2 linked regions of the Homo sapiens genome follow. The protein of the gene in region 1 purifies or fractionates together with the protein of each later gene. This does not show direct contact. Each region holds a gene or a part of one and is shown in the gene's direction. Other genes may lie near its edges.

The links.
Region 2: the proteins of ABHD12B (region 1) and CD58 purify together in Homo sapiens (affinity purification with mass spectrometry; 3 studies listed by BioGRID and IntAct, with this or other methods). This does not show direct contact.

Annotation. Positions count from the first base shown.
Region 1 is NC_000014.9:50,874,110-50,882,653, forward strand, and holds part of ABHD12B (protein ABHD12B), read left to right. Parts: intron 1-3,842; coding exon 3,843-3,970; intron 3,971-4,635; coding exon 4,636-4,738; intron 4,739-6,342; coding exon 6,343-6,462; intron 6,463-7,486; coding exon 7,487-7,517; intron 7,518-8,544.
Region 2 is NC_000001.11:116,513,023-116,519,559, reverse strand, and holds the end of CD58 (lymphocyte function-associated antigen 3), read left to right. Parts: intron 1-257; exon of another isoform or gene 258-292; coding exon 293-329; coding exon of another isoform or gene 330-333; exon of another isoform or gene 334-860; intron 861-4,737; coding exon 4,738-4,747; 3' UTR 4,748-5,026; downstream 5,027-6,537. UniProt on the Homo sapiens protein: Ligand of the T-lymphocyte CD2 glycoprotein.

The DNA of each region.
Region 1 (8,544 bases):
GATCATGGCACTGGAACTAGTGGGATGTGTTGTGAGACCCAAGAACATTTCATCATATGATTTTTTCAGTGGCTATTTTTTAATGCCTTGGGAATCTAGTTATTTATTTTACAAAAATTTTTATCAAATCCAGTTGCTGCTTAAGGTGGGTGGGCCAAGGAGAGTAAGTCTCCACTTTACAACTGGTTTTCTTTAAATTAGAAAAATGAGGCCAGGCATTGTGGCTCACATCTGTAATCCCAGCACTTTGGGAAGCCAAGGCGGGCAGATCATGAGGTCAGGAGATGGAGACCATCCTGGCTAACACAGTGAAACCCTGTCTCTACTAAAAATACAAAAAATTAGCCAGGCGTGGTGGCACATGCCCGTAGTCCCAGCTACTCCGGAGGCTGAGGCAGGAGAATTGCTTGAACCTGGGAGGCGGAGGTTGGAGTGAGCCGAGATCGCACCACTGCACTCCAGCCTGGGTGACAGAGCGAGACTCCGTCTCAAAAAAAAATAATAATAAAAAAAGAAAAATGGAAAATGTGCTCCAGAAGGAAGTTGGGGGAAACCAAAGGTTTATTTTCCTCCTCATTTCCCCCATTCCACCCCAAGTCATTACAATCCTAGATAGTGCTCAGAAAATGTGCAGGAGTAGGCTGATAAATGTGTTCATTCTTTCCACAGCGTTGGTTCTTTATTATCTATTGGATAGTATTCTAGTCTTGGTCACACAGCAGTAAATAAAACAGACAAAATCCTTGCTCTGTGGAGCACACATTGATTCATTTGCAATTGTAAGTAAAAAAAAGAAAATGAAGTCCTTCCTCTTTCCTCTGAAGCTACCAATAAATGTTGCTTCCTTCTCCCTTACAAAATAAATGCACTCTCTTTCTATTTTCAACCTATGCGTCAATATTTACTGAGCTCAGCCCTGGGCTAGACAGAGGGAAATGTAAAGGAAGCATTCTATGCCATGTTGTTCTTGTTGTCTGTGGCCTGATAGAGTGGAGAAGACAGGGCTAATAATGGGAAAGCCATCACAGAACAATTCAAGGCCAGCTGAGGCCCCGTTATTATTTGTGGGAGGAAAGACAAGAGAGGAGAGGTCACCATGGAATGATCTCTCCAGGAGACTTTGACAAAAAAGAGATACTTCCATGGGTGTGAAGGAAGAGGGGATTTGGTTGGGAGGATGTCTCCCGGTGCTTGGTGACAAACACATGTCGACTGAGTGAATTGGCACACAGGTTGAAGGTACCTGTCTTAATATTTGAAATAGTAAATGTAGTTAGATTTGGGCTTCCCAAAGTTGGTTTGCAGAAACCTCTGAGCATGAGTGATTCACCCTGTAGCAGCTCAGACTCCACCAGCTTTCACCAGTAAGAATCATCCAGTTAGGTTCTGAGTCCCCTGTGGGACGCTGTGTGGTTACAGCTGCAGCTGATCAAAGGGCAAGTGAAAGAACACCAAAGCACCAAGGTGGCCGTTTGATGTGGCTGGCCGTTAGCGGGGATTGGGCTGAAACTGCATCCTCTGCTCAAATAAGGTCTATTAGCCACTGGTGACTTTTGATCCCTTACTGATCTAGGGGAAGTCAAATTGACAACCCCTTAGTTAAAAGAAGCTGCTTTGCATTATTGATGCTCTGAGGATCTGGTCACTCTGTTCTCTTCCCGCAGTGCATCTCAGAAAAGTGCCTCGAGCTATTTGAGAGAAGGACTGTGTATGAATTATTCCTTAAAAAACAGACACACATTTCCCTCTACTGCCTCTGCTTCCCAAGCAGACCTTCAAAACATAGCTTAGCGGGAGACTACCCTGCCTACCTTCAAAAGACAGCTTAGCTGGAGACTAACAGGCAGGGTGGAGGTGAGTGAGGGGAGCTTAGAAGGAAGCCAGCAGGAGCCAGCAGCTGGAAGGAGGCACAGTTCAGCCTTGGGTTCAGTTCTGTCCATTTGGGCTTGATCTGTGGCTCAAAGTGGCTTCTCTGGGTTTTGATTTCTTATCTCTAAAATCAGAACAACAATGTCCTCTCCTTCCTGCCGCCTTCATGGCAGGGGTGGTGGGGTGCTATTTTAAAGTATTATGAAACAATCATTTTCATTTCTTTCTTGCTGATTTTATGAGTAGGCAATTGCCAGCGTATGATGTATTCAAAAATCTATCCATTACCCTTAGCCCACATATCTTTTCCACTTCTTGCAGAACTGCTGGAAATTCATCAGAGATTCATTATCTTCTCTCTTCGTGCCTCTTCCAAACACATATAAGTGCTCTGATTTTTAAGTCATTAACACTTCAGGGGGAATTAATTTTTTTAGAGGTCTTTCTTTGATGACTTTGTTATCAGAGGGCTCCTGAGAATACAGGAGCAGGAAGGAGGAAAGAAGAAAGGACGGGACCCTGCTGAGAGGGCTAAGGTGCAGAAGGAGATCTTAAAACAAGATTGTCTATGAGCAGAATTTTGCCAGAGGCCAGCTTTGTTCCTGGGGTTCATTTCTGCTTACATGGATGTCACCAAGACTGTGACATCCTGGAGATCATTATAAGACTATGGGATCAGACAGACCTGGGTATGTGTGGCTCTGCCATTCATTGACTTGTGACCTTGGAAAGATTACTTAACTTTCCAGTCTCATTTGCAAAGCAAAGGTAATAATTATCTTCCAAAAATGCCTCTGGTCTAGCATAGAAATCAGGGCAGGGGAGACAATTTATCAAAAATGCTTTCCAGCCCCTCAACCTTACCATTTGATTATATTAAACAGTTTTAACAATGATCTCTTACAACATGGAAAGGGACTTACTTAATGGATAATGTGGGCAAAAACTGGAAGCAGGAGGTGATGACATTGACCTCCTGTATCCCTCACCTCTCTAAGACCCTCACAAGAGAGGTGGCTTGAGACAGAGGTGTCCTTAGTGACCCCTCATGGACAAATCGTCACTTGTGTGCTGACAGCTCCTGATTGGGTGGTTTGTGTCACAGGGAACAATAGCGTAGGCAAGATGTGCATGCGCCCATCCCACTCCCTGACCAGGCTCCAGCCCTGTGCCTCATGGGTCCATCTCTTCCAGGGATCTCATCTCAGAAGTGGGGTCTCCTAACACTGGCTCATTTCTTCCTAAGATAAGTCCAGAATATAGAGGATCTAGGGATTATTCCCTCACTGCCTGAGACTAATGATAAGAATAGCTAACACATATAGTGCAGAATTGTGATATAATTAAAAACTGCAGCAACTGTTAAACTGTCTGAATCCTGTTTACTGGTGACTTTGGGGTCCAGCCTCAGCCTTCTATGGGGCTACAGTAAGGGACCAAACCTGGCTGTGGTGCGAACATATCCCTTCCCTTCCTGTCCCTGCCATGTCCTGGCTTTTTCAGCTACTGGTTGGGGCCCTGCCCTATTACTTTCCTTACCTGGTTTCCCCTTAGTCCCAGTCTTGGCCTGCCGTGTAGATAATTCCTTGTCATTGTGTAAAAGATTTTGCTTAAATGCCATCTGACCCAGAATTCCCAGTGTTAGTCTCTGAAATTTGGGGGCGGATCACCTGAGGTCAGGAGTTCGAGACCAGCCTGGCCAACATGGTGAAACCCTGTCTCTACTAAAAATACAAAAATTAGCCAGGCATGGTGGTGGGTGCCTGTAATGCCAGCTACTTGGGAGGCTCAGGCAGGAGAATTGCTTGATCCCGGGAGGCAGAGGTTGCAGTGAGCTGAGAACATGCCATTGCACTCCAGCCTGGGCAACAAGAGCAGAACTCTGTCCAAAAAAAAACAAAGAAAAAGAAAAAAACAAACCAAGACAAATGGATTAATTTCGAAAACCTTGTGTGTTTCCCAATACCTTGCAGATATTTTCCACACTCCTGTTCAATGCTCGGAAGAAAAATTGCTGCTCTGTATGACAGCTTTACTAGTAAATCCTTAAAAGAACACGTTTTCCTTCCTCTGATAGACATGCTAATTTATTTTAATTTTTGTAAGTATGGACCTTCCATAAATTTTCCTATATAATTTTTCCCAAATAAAGACCTCAGTACCCTTAAAGTTGTGACGTAGTGAAAAGACATGTCAGCTGTAAAATTGTGGTTAGACTGAAATGGTCTGAAACTTATTTAATATTGACTTTGAAGTCTAGCAGGAATCCTTGCAAACTGTTGGGAGTAAAGAGAGATGCATGGCCTTGTGGGTGGGGGTTCCATTCACAGTCCTTCTAGTTCTTACCTGCTTGCCTCCTGGTAAGCAGGTAGTTCTGGACATTTCTTGCCTTTTGGCTGATGATTAGGTTTCACCGAAGTAGCAGAATACTTATTATTTTCTTCTAGGCCTTTTTACCTTCTTAGGGGAATGGTCTCCACTGCTTTTAAAAAGCTGGAGACAAGGATAAGGATTGAATAACTCTGTTTCTCTATTATGAGCCATGACACTGATGCTATTTTAAAATCTAGCTTTTAGGTTTTTGTTTTTTGCCCCTCCTCTGCAGGCTAGTCCTAGCTGATAAAATAAAATACTCTGCTAGGAGTTTAGTGTAGTAGCTTGCAACTTAGAAGCCTGTTAACCTGTGTAGGCTAATTCCTTTCTTTGATTGTGATTAAAAGGCATGGAATTTGATTCTTGAAGTTGATAATGATTTTTACTTTCCAGTCAAAGCCCCATTTCTTGTGGATTTAAAGAAACCAGAGTTAAAGATTCCTCACACAGTGAACTTCTACCTGAGAGTTGAACCTGGGGTGATGCTAGGGATCTGGTGAGTGCACGGATGGGACACCGGGTTGCTTGATGGGGCAGGTGTTCCTGTTAGGACTCAGAGGAGCAGTGCTGTGTTACCTGCCCACGGAGAGGTCGGTGCTCCTGGAGGTACCTGGAGGCTGTTTCCTACACCTTCCTCTTCTGTTGATTTGCTTGATTTTCCTAAGAATTTTGCTTTGGAGTATAGACATTTAGGTGTTGCCCTTGGCTTCTGGCCTCACCCATCCCTTCTGCCTTATTCCATACCACCCTTGCCTTCATGCCCTTAACTCCAGACACACTGTCCTCCTAGGACATGCTCTGCCTTCAAGGCTTCCTTCTATTTCTCAGCTCCCTGCCTTCCCTCTTGCCTTGCTAACTGTCTACTCATCTATTGGATCTTACTTTAATTGGTAATTTTCAGAAAAGCCTTTCCTCACTGCCCGTTTTAGGTATGTGCTGTCATGGCCATCTGTGCTTGTCCCTTTTGACAATTATTCCCATTGTCATGAAATAAATGTTTGTGTGATGATTTGGTTAATATTTGTCTTCCTTACAAGACTATAGCTTCAGCAGGTGATAGACTTTGTTGGTGGGTTTTCATTGCTTAGCACAATGTTTGGCACATAAAGGGCATTCAGTAAATATGTCAGATGAGGTCATGAACAGTCTATTGTCTTACAATGCTAACCTTAACATTTCTTCTGTTTAGTTGTAATACTCATTCTTGGCTGCCAAGTTTCCAGTGACCTGTTTTCTATTTCATCTCCCTGAGTTCAAACCTTTGATCATAAAATGTTTAGGACAAACCCATAACTTCTTCCTACTCTTCAGGGTACAGTTCACCCAAATGTGTTGGAATTTAGAAATCTTTTTATTTTTTGCTTTTGCCCCACTGGTCCTTGGTTTGGTGAGTCAGCTATCTCATCAAGATCAGCTCATCCAGCAGGCAGCAGTGCCTATATTCGGAGTACAGAGGCCCTGGGGATGATGGCAGACTTTCTGTCCTTAAGTGATGGAGAGGACAGAAGATTTGTCACCCTTAGCCAGTTCTCCACATCCCATGGTGACATGTCATATGGCAGTGTTTGCATTTGCAGCATTCACTGGTTTAACAAAGTGGAGAAACTGGAACTCACACAGATGTTTAAAATCACAAGGTTTCTTGGTTTCTGGAGCAAAATAGTTTAGTGTTTTAGTTCTTTTCTCTTACATAAACTGGTTTCTCTTTAAATTATTTCCTACTTATCTCTTCGGCCGAACTCATGGCAGATGGTAAACATCTATTATCTTTTACTTGTTTCCCTTTTTAAAAAAAACAATTTCAATGGGCTGTACCTAAGAACTGCAGTCTTGGAAAATTAACAGGTGCAGAAGTCAGAAGAACGAAAACAGTAAGTCGTTAAAAGGCATTGTCTCTGTGCATGGGGACATGGGGTAGGGCAGTTGTGGTTCTCGTCATAAGACTTTTTGTGGTGTTAGATTTTTATTTTTGCCATGTGCATATATTAGTCGGATAAAAAATTAAAATATATGTATATATATCATAAGGAGACTTTCGGCCTTTGGAAAGGATGGAGAATTCCTCTTTCTACATTTGTTTAAACCTCCCTTGCTCTTCAGGCACACAGTCCCCAGCTGCCGGGGGGAAGATGCCAAGGGGAAGGACTGTTGCTGGTATGAAGCAGCCCTTCGTGATGGGAACCCAATTATTGTTTATCTTCATGGCAGTGCAGAACACAGGTCAGTGGCTCTGCTTACATATTTTTTTTTCAGGAGATTGAGAGCATTTCAGCCCCATGGGGGAATGAAGGACAGGGCTCTGTTTTTAACTCTGTAGGCATGCCTTCACATATTTCTTCTCCTTTGTTGAAATCTGAGGGTGTTCTGGCAATAAGCTTCACTTAAAAAGATTATTCTATATGTAGAATAATGTGGATCCCTAACTGAGGAGAAAAGAATAACTCTTCCAAAAGTTGGATGTTGATTTCAAAGAAAGTGATGATTCCTTTGCTCCCGAAGAGTGTCTGAAATGATGGATTGAACCCATGAATGACAGGAAAGGGAACAGGCACGCATTATGGGGGAAAGGAAGAGCCATTTCCAGATCAGAGATTTTTCAGAACACTACAGTGGAGAGTCCTTTATTTAGCTTTAATGTTATTAGCTGAAAATATGACTCCTTAAGAGAGGTCACACGGAATTCTGACCACAGGTACTGGGGACCGTCTGACTAATTCTAGAATATTCATACCTCAGCCCATTCTCTGTAGTCCCAACCTCGCTCTGTAACAAAGAACGTCTCCCAGGAGTCTGGCTCCCCTTCGATGTGCTGTCAGAGCCTTTTTGGGCCTGTATGATTATGTTGGGTGACGATCATCGGCTGTGACTGTGCCCCTGAAGCTTGGGGCAGGGGCGATGTGCCTCAGAAACACACAGATCTCCACCATCTTGGGAGGAGCACCTGCCTGTGACTCCCTTCCTCCCTGTCTTTTTCTGGCAGGTGACTCGCCTTTCTCAAGACTCGCCTTTTCTCAAGGGGCTTTTTTGATGTGTCCATTTTAGAGCCACATTTGCTGAAATTTCCTGTGAAACCCAGCATTTTTTTTTTTTTTACATTTCCCCTTCTCCTAGTTATTTATTCCTCCAACCTGAAAGAGAAAGGCGTGAGATCAGATACCAGCAGCACGAGAGTGATTTTTATTGAATTTGTTATCATCGTTCCTAATTCTTGCTTTTTTTTTTTTTTTTTAAACTTCCTTCACAGGGCAGCTTCGCACAGACTGAAGCTGGTAAAGGTATGTCTGAAGAGGCCTCAAAGCACCCATTTCATAAGTCTGTTTGATATGTCATAAGATTTTCCTCAGGCCCTCCGCGTGGTTGTTTTTTGAGAGGTCTCCAGGGTACTGGTCAGGGTGGGTTGTGGTGTCTGGGGCTCAAAGTCCCACCGGTGGACTTCTGCTCCTACACTGATCAAAACAGAACCGAGCTTCTCTAGGTCCCAAAGTACCTTCGTGAACTTAATAACCTCATTGCCAAATGGAGGTGAAGACATTTTTATTTGCTTTCTCTGAGGGCTGGGGGATGGGTTGAGAGAGGTTTTTTTTGTTGTCGTTGTTGTGGTTGTTGTTTTTTGAGATTCTGTTGCCCAGGCTGGAGTGCAGTGGCATGATCTCCACTTACTGCAACCTTCACCTCCCAGGCTCAAGCGATTCTCCTGCCTCAGCCTCCCGAGTAGCTGGGATTACAGGCACCAACCACCACGCCCGGCTAATTTTGTATTTTTTAGTAGAGACAGGGTTTCACCATGTTGGCCAGGCTGGTCTTGAACTCGTGATCTCAGGTGATCCACCCACCTCCGCCTCCCAAAGTGCTGGGATTACAGGCGCGAACCACCTCACCCGGCTGACGTTTTTATTTGCTTTCTCTGAGGGCTGGGGGATGGGTTGAGAGAGTATTATTAAGGTGCAAAATGGTCACTCCTTTTAAAAGAATCAACCTTTTTAATTTCTAGTGGTTATAGGCTAAAGACACAGAATGTCTGCTTTTTTTTTTTTTTTTTTTTTGAGACGGAGTCTCGCTCTGTTGCCCAGGCTGGAGTGCAGTGGTGCTATCTCGGCTCACTGCAAACTCCGCCTCCTGGGTTCATGCCATTCTTCTGCCTCAGCCTCCCAAGTAGCTGGGATTACAGGCACCTGCCACCACGCCCGGCTAATTTTGTTTTTGTATTTTTAGTAGAGACAGGGTTTCACCGTGTTAGCCAGGATGGTCTCGATCTCCTGACCTCGTGATCCGCCTACCTTGGCCTCCCAGAGTGCTGGGATT
Region 2 (6,537 bases), on another chromosome or scaffold:
ACTATTCTAGCCTTCCCTGCATCTTCAGCCTTATGCACGAGGTAAAATTAGCCATTTTGTCAACAGTTTTTGCATTTGGTTTTCTATCATGTTCTGACCAATTTTTGAACAACTCTTTGGACCAGCTCTGTAGCCGATTTGATTTAAAGCATATAGGATAGCAGGAAATCCCAGGGTGATGGGGCTCTGGCTTAGTTTTCCATATTTAGGCCTCTAATAGGCAGTCAGTAACTCCACATTTCACCTTTTCTTTTCAGTTCTTTAATTGAGAAGACAATTTCTTCATTTTTAGGTATTCTGAAATGTGACAGAAAACCAGACAGAACCAAGTAAGTACACTGCAGGCTGTGCACTCTGTGCCAGAACAACAGCAGCCCTGCTGTAGATGCCCATTACTTGGGAAGCCAGATTGTACTCATCTGTTGGTTGCCTTGTACAGTAATAAGAAGTAACATCAGCAGATATACTAACCATAGTGTATTAAGTACCAACTGTGTGCCATGCACTGCACTAGCCACTCTCTGCATATCGTTTCCTGGAACCCTCTCAATGAGCCTTGCAGGAGGAGTATCATACCCCTTGCTTAGAGACAGCGCATATGAGATTCATAGAAGTCAAGTGAGATATCAAAGTCACGTTGCTAGTAAGTGATGGGCTGGGATTTAAATCTAGGTCTTTGGACTCCAAGAGTTATACTGTTAACCACTACAATACACTCCCTCCACCTCCCATCCCAGAAAAAGTTGGATCAGGGATAGGGTTCACTTCAGGAGCCAGGGTCAGAGCTGGGCCTGTAGTCACATATAAAAGATAGGACACAAACACAATTAGCAGCAGTGTTGGTTTAATAAACCGCCGTAGGGTGCTCCAAGAGGCCCCCTCCTGGCAGATCCCACTGGTGGTCAGGAGGCAGAGGCATGAGCTGGGTGTTGAGGGATGAGGGGAAGAGTTAAGGCCCAGGGTGTGAAGGGCAGGACAAGAAGTAGCAAGCCATCCTCTTTGGAGCAGAGAGTGTTGAGGCATTAGAGAAAGATGGGGCTGGGCTGGCAGGTTGGGCCAGGCTGAGACTTTGAGAGAGGCTTTGGGTCATTCTTTAGGGAGAACCGCAGAGTTTTCTAGCAGAACTATGCTTTAGTAAGATCACTCTGCTGGCAAAGCATGGGACTAATTAATAGGAGATGAGATGAGGACACTGGTTAGTGGAGTAATGAAATAATCCAGCCAAGCAGAGAAGAGGGCCTGAGTCAAGGTGATGGTGGCAGAACTGAATATGCAGAGCTAGGTTTGAGAGAAACAGCAGAGGTCCTGTTAGCAAAACTTTCATCTGGCAGTGTAGGCTCTGATGCCAAACTCCCTGGTTCAAATGCCAGCTCCATTTCTCACAGGCCTTGGACAAGTCACTTAAACTCTCTGTGCTTTGGTTGTCTTCTGTGGAAAATGGGCATAATGATAATATAGAAATGACAATGATAGCATAGATAATCACATAGAAATAACTGTGTCAAAATATATTAATATAAGTACAATGCTTACAATAGTGGCTGGCTCATAATAGTTTTCAATAAATGTTAGCCATTATGACTATTGTTACTATTATTTTTCAAGAAAAATAAAAGCGACAGGACCAAGTGTCACAGAGGAGTCACACAGGAATCTTGGTTGGGAAGGAAAATTATGAATTTTTGCTTTGACAGGTTGATTTTGGGGTGCTGGTGTATTACCTGGCTAGTGATGTCCATGCACAGAATTGGAGCGTGGGCTTCACGCTAGAGTTACGGATTGGGGCGCCTCTTCATCTGGACAGTAATTGATGCCGTGAGCACCTGAGGTCACTAAGAAAGAAAAGCTAGATGCCCTAGGGTGATGGGAAGAGGCAGAGGAGGCGGGACTGGGGAAGCAAAGTCCAGGATCAGAGCCAGGGTAGCCCCGGGTTAGAGACTCGAGGGAGGAGGCTACATGTTAAAGCTGCAGAGACAAGGAGGTAGGCGAGGGGTTAAGACCTTTGGTTTTGTGGAGTCGGTTGCTGTGGTCAGTGCAGGGATGAAGTGAGGGTGGCTAAGCAGCAGCAAGGGCCTAGGTGAGGTGGGATCGATGGATGGGCCACAGGTGTCCTTTCTCCTCAGCTGCCAGGTGGAACAGTGCAGGAGAAACAAGCTGTGGCAGGAGGCCTGGGGGCAAGGAAGTACAAGGGGCAGCTCAGCCGGCCACAGACCCAAGCTGGGAGGACCCAAGGCCATGAGGGGTTGATGGGCCAGGAGGCTGGGCAGAGAGGAGCCAAGTAGCTGGAGATGAGGTGAGGTGGGAGAGGTAGGGACCTCCAGGCTTGTGGTCAGAGGAAGGCATTTCAGATCTGAGCAATATGCGTGAGCCCCAGGTGAGTGTGAGAGCCAAGTCAGGTCTCTGCTGAGATCTAGGTGGTTACAGTGGAGGGGAACTCTGAGTGGATGGGGGAGGCATAGCCATCACTACCAATGATGGGGGTAGGGGGGCATCATCCAGGGCCACGGGGAAAGGGGATGGGCATTCTGGAACTCATCCCTTCCTCTGTTCCTTTCATCACAACAAACGTTATGGAGATTATGCGATACCAGGCACTGTGCTAGCTGATAGGGTGGGGGTCAGAGTACCCAGCGAGGCTAGACATTGTGTGGGATTCAGAGAAAGCATATAATAGGGCTCCTCCCACAAGAAGCTTGTGGCCACACCAGGGAGAGAGAATGGATGCACATGAGCATACGAAACTCTTAGAAGGACTTAGGCAGGAAGCACAGGTGATAGGCAGAATGTGTGATATGAGGGTAAGGGCTGAGCAACCAACGCAGAGGAATTGGAGAGGCCAGAATAATCAGAAAAGCTTTGGAGGGGGTAGGATGTGACCTACATTTTCAGAACAAGAGTGGAGTAGAAAAGGCATTCCAGGTGGGATAAACAGCGGAGGCAAATACATGAGAGGGAATTAAATCTGTTGTGATTTATTTGATAGTAAGATTGACCTGCCTGGCATCGAGTTGAAGTAGAGGCAAAAGACACTGAATATTTGCAAGGAGGTCCTTAGAATGGAGTGATATGGAAATAAGCAGCCATTATAGGTTCTTGAGCAGGAACATTTTGCATGAAAAGCACTGCTTTGGAATGATGAGTCTAGAAAGGTAACACTGACCTCTCTAAGGTGGCATTCTAGGGAGAGACCTGAGTATTTGGGGCTGAGATTGAGAGAGGAGCTTACTTTTCTTGGTATATTTTTATTTACTATTCAAGTTCTGCATCATGTGTGTTTACTGCCTATTTAATAATTATTTTTAAATTTAAAGAACCCATTGTGGCAGCAGGGGGAATTCTCTAAGCTCAGTTACTAAAGGGTTATGAAGCTGGGTATGGTAGCACACACCTGTAGTCTCAGCTACTTGGGAGGCTGAGGTGCGAGGATCGCTTGAGTTTAGGAGTTAGTGGGAGGATTTCTTGAGCCCAGGAGTTAAGAGACCAGCCTGGGCATCAAAAAAATTAAGTTAAATTAAAATGTTAAAAGGTTCTGTATATGGTGGAGATGGAGGAGATCGGGGGAGGAGATGAGAAAGGGGCAAGCATAAGTAGGAACAAATGCAATATTTCCCCAGCTGCGCGAGGGCAGGAGCAGGAAGAACTAAACCCAATTAGGAACAACAGAGGACAGATGAGTAGATAGCAGACATCTGACGGGAAATGGCCACGCCACACTTCTCACCCAGGCAGTTCAACGTAGGCAATTTCTGAGTGCCCTGGTATTTTTTGTGTAAGTGTCTAGAAAACAGATCACAAAGTTAGCCAAATTAAAAAGGAAGCAGGGAGTCCTATTTCTCCGAGAAGAAAGATTTACAGGTGGGATCTCAGGCAGGAGCCAAGCTGGAGAAGCAGGCTTGATTCCTTGTAGTGGGTGAGGAGACTGCTGGGAGAGGGCAGGGAAGCAGAGACCGGCAAAAAGCTGCCCCAACAAGAATCCTGTGCCTGCCAACCTGGTTTACAAACATTTCCCACTTTATCCCCCTCAGAAAGTCACAGCACCCATTTCATGTTCTGTGAGGCTCCCAAGGAGGGAAACTTCTAGTTTGCTGTCCTTTACCTCACCCCTGTGACCACAGCACTAATTTCTCATGAATTCTTGTTACCAATGAGATACAAATGTTTGGGGAGCTCTGGCCTGGTCTGATTTTGAGCTCTGTGGAAATACGCAGACCACGGGGGAGGAGGCCGGGAAATGGACTCGGTTTGAGGGCTTGCTCAAGGATGCGGTTTTGTTTTTCGGCTGATTTACTCCAAGACAGCCAGAGATTGTTCTGTCGTTGCCACAGAGGTGACTAAACAGGAAGGTAAGTTTGAGGTAGGAAGAAAACCATCCCCAGGAGTTTCATGTAGCAAAGAAGGAAGTAGCTGTTACAAATGGGTGACAGTTTACATGTGGGTCTAACAGTCTCAGCTCTGTTGTTCAATCTTTCAGTTATACTCAGAGAGTAAGCGGGAGGAGCCTTGGGGCTGCTATTGAGTGCAGCATCCTGAAGGCTGTTCTTCAAGTGTTACTCAGACTACTATCCCAAGAGCACTCAAGGCAGTTCTTCCTCCATCCCTGCTCCCTAGCTCCCTTGGCTTTGATGAGTTTATTACAAAAGGGCTATTCACTTTAGAATAGGAGGGTAATTAAGACTCCTGGTCTGCAGCCCAGATTTACTGCATTTTACAAGTTAATAATATGATTTTTTTTTGTAGCTCCAATTGATTGGTAACAGAAGATGAAGACAACAGCATAACTAAATTATTTTAAAAACTAAAAAGCCATCTGATTTCTCATTTGAGTATTACAATTTTTGAACAACTGTTGGAAATGTAACTTGAAGCAGCTGCTTTAAGAAGAAATACCCACTAACAAAGAACAAGCATTAGTTTTGGCTGTCATCAACTTATTATATGACTAGGTGCTTGCTTTTTTTGTCAGTAAATTGTTTTTACTGATGATGTAGATACTTTTGTAAATAAATGTAAATATGTACACAAGTGACTAGGTGGTTTGGCTACTGTTTTCCTAAGATAGAAAAATAAGGGTCACATACCCTTTTAAAATCTATACTCTTTCTCCCTTGCTTTAGGGGAAAAATAATTCATTGTAGGGTCATTCATGGAGTGAGGGAGAAAAGTACTGTCCCTCACTGGGTTCCACTGCTGTCAGTACGAGGCAAGTGAACACATGGGTCTTTACTTCTAGCTGCTTTTGAAAAGAGCAGATCACCACCATCCAGTGCAGTTGTATAACACAGGTGGGGCAGGGAGACTTCTCTCGCTGCCATTAATTAGCCTACTTAGTTTGTTGCATTGGTTAGCTGTCACATTGGGAGGTCAACAGCAGACAGTAGCTGGAAAACCGTAGTCATAACAAATACAGAGTGGCAGCCACTCCTGAAGTGGTGGACGGTGCCAGTTGCCTCTGGCAGCCATGTAAACCCAAGTCAATACATAGACGCTTTAGCTTGTGCCTGCACTGTCCCTGGAATTCCTGTCACATGAGAGTCTCCAGGCTGAAGGAAGAAATCAATATTTCTTGACTCCAAGATGGGCCTGTCAAGGTGGGTGGATCACAAGGTCAGGAGATCGAGACCATCCTGGCTAACACAATGAAACCCCATCTCTACTAAAAATAAAAAAAGTTAGCCAGGTGTGGTGGCGGGCTCCTGTAGTCCCAGGTACTCGGGAGGCTGAGGCAGGAGAATGGCGTGAACCCAGGAGGCGGCGCTTGCAGTGAGCCAAGATCAGGCCACTGCACTCCAGCCTGGGGGACAGAGCGAGACTCCATCTCAAAAAAAACCCCTCAGGCTACATGTGTTCTCTCTAGAACAGCCTGCATCTGAGCTCCCACAGGCCTCAGCAAGAGTGGGAAAGGAGCCCAGAGTGCTTCTGGGAAGACCCACATCTCCCCAGCTCCCCCCATCTCCATGTGGCATGGATTCCTATCCTGTCTCAGACTAATCTTGTCAAACCCTTTATCCCAGACCCTGTAGGAAGCCCATGACTCCCCTGGAGACTTCTGTCCCATGCAGCTCTGTAATGCCCCACTTTCTGCCCCCATCCATCAGCAGCGACATCCCTGATGTCCTCTTCTGTGAATGCCTCCTTTGCTTCGCTGTTCTAATCGAAACCCAGCTCTCCCTGGGGATGCTGCCTCCCACAGCCTCTCAAGGGGTAGCTGTGTTCTTTCCTGCATCCCTTGTATTCAGGGCCTAGGGGAAAGAAGACGTCCTCCTTGCTCTTCTCTGCCTGCAGACCAGTGCTCCTTCCTCGGCTTTGATGCTCATGCCAGCTAATCATCACCACCTGACATCCCTTGTTCTGGTTATCTTTGTTATTCCCTATCCCTTGGAGGTTTTAGCACTATGTCAAAGTCTTCTCCCTGACATCACTTCTTCCAGATTTTGAATGCTTTCAAAATCTACAAATCTAATACCCTCGCATGGTCTTTTCTTCTCCCTTTTTCAGCTAGCCACCCCATAGCCATACTGCTGACCTATAACTGCAGCA